Linked DNA regions of Homo sapiens. The protein of the gene in region 2 purifies or fractionates together with the protein of the main gene of each other region. This does not show direct contact. Each region holds a gene or a part of one and is shown on either strand. Other genes may lie near its edges.

Region 1 (3,500 bases), on a different chromosome or scaffold from region 2:
ATAATTGGTATCTTCAGTGTGAGAAAGCAGAGAGAGAAGACAAGAAGAGTATTAAAATTATGAACAACCTTCATAAGATAATATTAACTAAATTATGTATCAGGCAATGGAACACCCTTTGAAACATGAACAGGCTCAGTTAAAGGGAAATAAAAAAGTATACTGCAGATAATAATATTATATTATTACATATAATTTAATGTATGTATATTATTACATATAATTTAAAGTAATATGTTACTCCCTCTCCTCAAGAAGTAGTACAGACATGAACTGTAAATGGGTCTGAAATGGTTTGGATATTGTGTATATCAGGGCTACCAACACTGGAATGCATACAGCCTGAAACCAAAAATAAAAATTGCACCCTCTTTGGCATATTTTGAGGCCCTCTCTAGGCAATAAATTCATTACAACATGTACCCATCCTGTGAGTACTGATAAATTACTTGGCTTATACTACAGATGTGGTAGTCACTTAAAAATACTGTACCTTATGACCACCTACAGATAAAAACTGATTAAGTCCAATACACCAAAAATAATTAAACAAATCAGCTATTCTTCTGATTGTTTCAGCTCACATAAAAGGGGTGACTACCACTAAACACACACACACACACACACACACACACACACACTCACAGAACGGGTTGAATTCTGAAGGCCAGCCATGTGGCCAGTATGAAAACGGGCCCCAATAAGAACTCTGCACACCAAAGGCTCAGGTGAGCTTCCCTGGTTGGTCTGCAATATTCCATGCCTAGTGCCACATAACAGTGCCAGGAAAGTAAGACATGGAGACTCCACAGGGAGAGGACAACAGAAGCTCTGCCCTATGTGCTTCTTTACTTGACTGATTTTCATCCGCATCTTTTCCCCGTAATAAACCATAACCAGGGGTAATAAGCTTTCAGTGAGTTATGTGAGTCTTTCTAGAGAAGTATCAAACCTGAAGGTTGACTTTGGAAACTCCTCAAATTTGCAGAAACTAAATTCCAGAGAAATCCATTTTATTTTAAATAAATAAACTTCACAATAAAATAGGACAAAGGAAAAAATAAATGCTTATTCAAGTTCTCTAAAAGTCAAGTTACTACTGTTCCTAAAGAAAAACACACACCAATCCCCTCTCCTTTTTCTTTAAAGCATTAGCTTTGCCCCTAAATAAATTTTGAGATTTGGGTACATTCTGAAGGAATGCTGGCTTAAAACAGTGTCAGAATCTTTTTGTACAGAAATCTACAGACAAATATAAAAAGTGTTGACCATAAGTATAACAAAGTTTTAAAAATATTTTGTAAACAACTACTATGTTCCAATAGGTTATTCCAGTGTACCAGACATTATCACATACCTGATATTGCTTGATTCTTAAACCATTCTTATTAGATATTCTTATCCCCATCCCAGAATGAAGGAAAATGAGACCTCAGAGGTTTCATGCAGCATGAGAACCAGGAGCACTGGAGGCAAAGATACTGCATTCCCCCTCTCATTTGTTGTAAAGGAAAAGTCAATTCTCTGGGCCTCAGATTCCCCCTGGAAAAATGATAAAATACCTACTTCACTGGGCTGCTGCAAGGATTAACTGGGTTACCACAGTGAGCAAATACATATTAATTCTTTTCCATTCCCTCTTTCCACTCTGGCCAGCCCAATGCTACACTGCTAGTAAATAGCAAAGTCAGTCTATAAAGCCAGATCTTTTTCTGCTAACCTCAGCTTTAGAATAATTTTCAAAATTACATTGCTGCTCTAAGATTCTAGATTTCAAAAATACTTTACTTTTGATAAAGTATATTAAAAAGAAGGAAACTATAAATCAGGAGAATCCTACAACAATAGCTAGAGATATTTTTTGAATTAAATGTTTGAATAGTCATAGAATGCCAAAGATTAAAAGTTCATTACACACATGTACTAACAATTTAAGGTTTGGTACACTGCCATACTTACATGGACTGAATTTAGAGTTAACAGCAACAAAATAGATTTATTTTTTAGGGTATAAAAGATTATTACTGAGAAATTTTAAAACTTCTTTTTCAAAGCACCACATTTCTCATTGTTTTAGAATATTTAGGGCAAACCTGGACACACGATAATAAAGCTCACCTGCATCATGATTTTCAGACGGTCCAAAGGGGCAGTGCTTGTTCGAGAGACAGCACCAGCAATGCCTCCTGCCAAAAGCTGCCTCCACCATTGTCCGGATTTTTTTTCGTCTTCCGTGAATTCATCTGGAATAGTTAAGCTATCCCCTATGTCAATTCCCTGTAAAAATGAAAAAAAGATCCCCATGCGCCTTAGTTAAAAATAATCCCAGAAGACGTTTTGTTTTAGAGAAGAATCATGTTATTTTACAGTTAATATGAACTTCATTCCCTAGAATTTATACTAAACCAATTTGAGTACATAGATTATAAGTTGTCTACTCACAATGAACAAAGTACAGTATCAGTTCACAAGAAATGAAAATAAACAGTAATTACAAATATACAAAACCAACAGTTACAACTTTCTTTCATTCATCATAGATTCACAGTATGTTTTCTCTTGGTCTAGGTTAAAATGAAAGGGCAGCATTTTATCATAGTCAATCTTTTTTATTGCAACCATTTTTCATAAGGCTAGAAAACCAACTGGTGATGACATCTTTTAAGAAATTCGTTCATCAATTCTTAAACAATACTTCCTTTATCTCAAATTTATATCCACATCATATTTATACCATGATATGTTTTAAATATGTAAATAAAAATTAAAACTGTATGTGAATACCCCTAAACTCATTTCCTACTGTTTATAAAAATATTTTTATAAATCTGACTTATCATTTAAAACATGCAATAGATTCTATATAAAATTTAGCTAATGGAGAGGTATTGTTTCAAATCATCACCCCTTCAACCTATTCTACATTACTATAGTTTGAGAGAAACAATTCTATAATAATATTTTTACAATTCTATTATCTAAATTGTTTTGGCAGAAAAATTTTTACAGGCAAGAGTGCAACGGGGAGGAGCTCTCCTATGGTAGTAACCCTCCCTTCCTTCATTTTACTATCAATAAAATGGAGATACAATTGTAGTCTCAACTGTTATCAACTACCTTAAAAAATACCGTAAGAATTATGTAAATAAAACTTCACATAGTGTACAATTTATCTAGGCAACTGAACTACTAGTATAATATTATCTTATACTCATAGCTGAGAAGGCACTAATCACCAACAATTTTATAATGCTTTATGTAAGCTTAGGCATTGTTACTAGTGGCAATGTGAACTCCTGACTTCATTTAATGCATATTTAATTTAGTCAAATCTGAAGTGTAGAAGACAAGCCCATAAAGAAAAAAAAAAAAAAAAAGGCCGGGCACAGTGGCTCACGCCTGTAATCCCAGCACTTTGGGAGGCGAGGCGGGCGGATTACAAGGTCAGGAGATCGAGACCATCCTGGCTAACACGGTGAAACCCCGTCTCTACTAAAAAT
Region 2 (3,500 bases):
AGAAACCCTGTCTCTACTAAAAATACAAAATTAGCTGGATGTGGTGGCACATGCCTGTAATCCTAGCTACTTAGGAGGCTGAGGCAGGAGAATTGCTTGAACCCGGGAGGCGGAGGTTGTGGTGAGCCGAGATCATGCCACTGCACTCCAGCCTGGGCAACAAGAGCAAAACTCCATCTCAAAAAAAAAAAAAAAAAAAAAATTGAAAACCTCTACATATGGGGGAAAAACCCCATTTGAGAGGCAAAAGCAGGCTAGAAAAAGTATGTGCAGACAATGTCAGAAAAGTTTAAGGTTAATATCTTTTATTATAAAAAGACACTCATGTATAAATAACCCAGACTAAATGACCCAGTAAAAATATTAATGACATAATTTATAAAATATAAGAACATATTTTTAAAGTTTAACCTTACTAGCAATTGGAGAAAAAAGATGCAAATCTTAAAAAAAAAAAAAAAAAAAAAAAAAGAGTTATCATTATTTTCCCATAGATGCTTTAAAAAACCAACTACGGAATACTCAAAATAGTATATTTCCAGCCTATTTACATCAGTAACCTATCTATTTCTATAACCTAACTATGACCAAAGGAAAAGAATTAAAATTCAGATTAAATAAAACTAAACTGCGGTGTTTGTTCTCTTGTATAAGCAGCAGGTATAGTGAGAGGAGAAGAAAATTTCCCAATAGAATAATTTAAGATTTAAATATTCTAAATGTAATTAATAATGTTAATAATTTTTCTAATCTCAGTCTCTTCATAATCATGCTTACATTTTACTACTCAATATTATTTGTCAGGGTTAGTATTTGGGAAATAATGTAGAATTAAGCTCTCAAATATACTATGCAATTGTTTTTTAACTTGCTCAAATGCTCAAGAACCAAAAATAAAAATAAAAGTACATTTTAATTTTATAATTCAAAATGTCTGTATTTTTCCCTACTAAAAATATGCCACACTCTTAAAATAAGATACAACTATTAAAACAACAGTAATATTGTGCTACCAATTTAAACTAAGGTTAGGCCAAGGAGAACATGCTAATTAAATTAAAAGAGTGTCAAACTCCAGGCTTCTAACAGAAGTCTCATAAATTCATGCTATAATCAACAATAAATACTATAATCAACATACACATGAGAAGCACCACATTTTCTATATGTGATTAGTCTTACATATTTGACGAGTTGATATAAACAAGGAAATTTAGTTTTCCTTTCATTCTAGAACGTCAGTTGTGTGTCTCTATGAAACCAAACACCTAAATAGTCAACTTTTTCTTTACCTGAAGAATCACCTCTTCTAATTGACCGCCTTGAAGTTGGTCTTCTAATTTTTTAACATCTGGTTCCTATAATTTCAGGGAGAAAAAAAATTAAAGAAGCATACTAACTGAATGTTTCAATATCCTATATATTTTAAAATTCCTATATAAAAACACTTAAAAATACAACTTTTCTTTCATCATACTCTTTTTACTAAATATTTGGTGAAAATTCATTTCACCTCTGCTATTTCATTGCTTTTCTGTCTTAATATTGAAAAGTGCTAAATGTTTATTGACATGCTGATCAAGGGACAGAAATACAATGTCAAATTCAGTCTTCCTAAAACAGATTTTAAAATATGACTTTGCTTTCTTAATATTTCCTGTATTTCCTCTGAGAGCATTAGAATTAGAAATAAATGCTACTCTATGACCCAGAAATTACACTTCTAGGCATAATGCCAAACAGAAATGCATAATATATTTTTTAAAAAACATGTTTGAGAATATTCACAGCAGCACAAATTATAGCCCCAAACTAGAAATAACCCAAATGATCATCTGTAATAGAATGGATCAATTAATTATAATATTTGGATATAATACTTCACAGCAATGAAAATGAATAAACTGTATGCAACAATATAGGTGATTCTCTTAACCACAGTATTAAGCACAAGCCAGAGTACAGTATGTATAAGACAGTACATACTAATGATTTCATTTATATAAAATTCAAAAACAGGCAAAAAGAAGTCCAAATAGAGATTAACTTTACAAGTAGTAAATTGAAGGGGAAGAGGCAAGGGTTTTGTTGTTCTGGAAAAGTCCTTTTTTTCTACACATTTGTAATGTATATAATTATTTAATAGAAGTTTTTAAGAACAAAATGTTAATAAATATAGTACCTAGAACATTCAATGACATTTAGTTATTTTCTAGTAAACTGAGCTTTTTGAGCCAGAAATCATGCTCTGTAAATATACCCACATATGTAAATAAGGCTTTGTCTTTTCAGGGTGTTTTTCTGGCCAATAAATGGAATAAAGAGGGAGAAAATAATACATTTTGCTTTTCAACACAAGACGTGATATGTTACTGCCTCAGGGTATCTTGCTGGATGGCCCAGGGTATCTGCATCACTTGTTTCTTCACCACTTTTCAAATCTTTGCTCAAATAACACCTTCTTATTGATTAACTACTGATAATTTGCATTATGATAGGCTGAAAAATACCACAAAAGATATACATGTATTAATTTCTAGAAACTGTGAGTGTTACTTTATACAGCAAAGACTTCACATATATGATCAAGTTAAGGATGCTGACATGGGGAGATTTTCCTGAATTATCCATATAGTCCCTAACTGCAATTATAAGTGTCCTTATAAGAGAGAGGCAGAGGGATATTACACACAGAAAAGGAAAAGGTAATGTAACCACAAAGGCAGAAATTGCAGTGATGAGACCACAAGCCAATAAATGCCAAAAGCCACCAGAAGCTGAAAGAGGCAAGAACAGATTCTACCCAATATCCTCCAAAGGAAGCACAGCCCTGACAACACCATCTTGATTTGGGTCCCTGATGTTGATTTCCAACTTCTGGCCTCCAGAAGTCTAATAAAATAAACTTACATTGTTTTAAGCCACCAAGTTTGTGGGAATATTACAGCAGCCATACGAAATTAATACATAGTGTAACATCCCCTATCCCCACCATGGCACACATTTTCCTTGTTTTATTTTCCTTCACTGCACTTACTATTTTCTAACACACTATGTACGTCTTTACTCAGTTTTTACTTTTTTTTTTTCTTTTGGTCTCCCATCACTAACATGTAATCTCCAAGAAGGAAAGGATTTTTATCTGTTTTGTGCCAACTAGGCACAAGTTTCCATGCCTAGAACCATACATGGCATTCAATAAATGTTTCTTGGTTAAAGAAGTGAATACATAAAAAACAGCTGAAAGGGGGAGAAAAGGGGAAAAAGTAATAAGCATGTTTAAGACAGATTATTTAACAGGGAATTAACTCATATGAGAGACCAAAAATCAAAAACAAAACAGGGAAGCTGGTCACTGTTATAAGAGACTCAGGAGAGTGAAGGTAAAGAAGGCAAGGAAAGTTCAACGACACTTTCATTTCAGAAAAAGCCTGTGTTAGGTGAACAGTTCAAAATTTGTCTTACCGATAGTGAATAATGTGATTTTTAGTCACCAATGG

The links. The genes of interacting proteins can lie anywhere in the genome.
Region 1: the proteins of NDUFA5 (region 2) and SLC25A24 fractionate together in Homo sapiens (co-fractionation; one large-scale study listed by BioGRID). This does not show direct contact.

The regions. Positions count from the first base shown.
Region 1 is NC_000001.11:108,155,344-108,158,843, forward strand, and holds part of SLC25A24 (mitochondrial adenyl nucleotide antiporter SLC25A24), read right to left. Parts: intron 2,278-3,500; coding exon 2,119-2,277; intron 1-2,118. UniProt on the Homo sapiens protein: Electroneutral antiporter that mediates the transport of adenyl nucleotides through the inner mitochondrial membrane. Originally identified as an ATP-magnesium/inorganic phosphate antiporter, it also acts as a broad specificity adenyl nucleotide antiporter.
Region 2 is NC_000007.14:123,544,319-123,547,818, forward strand, and holds part of NDUFA5 (NADH dehydrogenase [ubiquinone] 1 alpha subcomplex subunit 5), read right to left. Parts: intron 2,500-3,500; exon of another isoform or gene 2,340-2,499; intron 1,359-2,339; coding exon 1,293-1,358; intron 1-1,292. UniProt on the Homo sapiens protein: Accessory subunit of the mitochondrial membrane respiratory chain NADH dehydrogenase (Complex I), that is believed not to be involved in catalysis. Complex I functions in the transfer of electrons from NADH to the respiratory chain.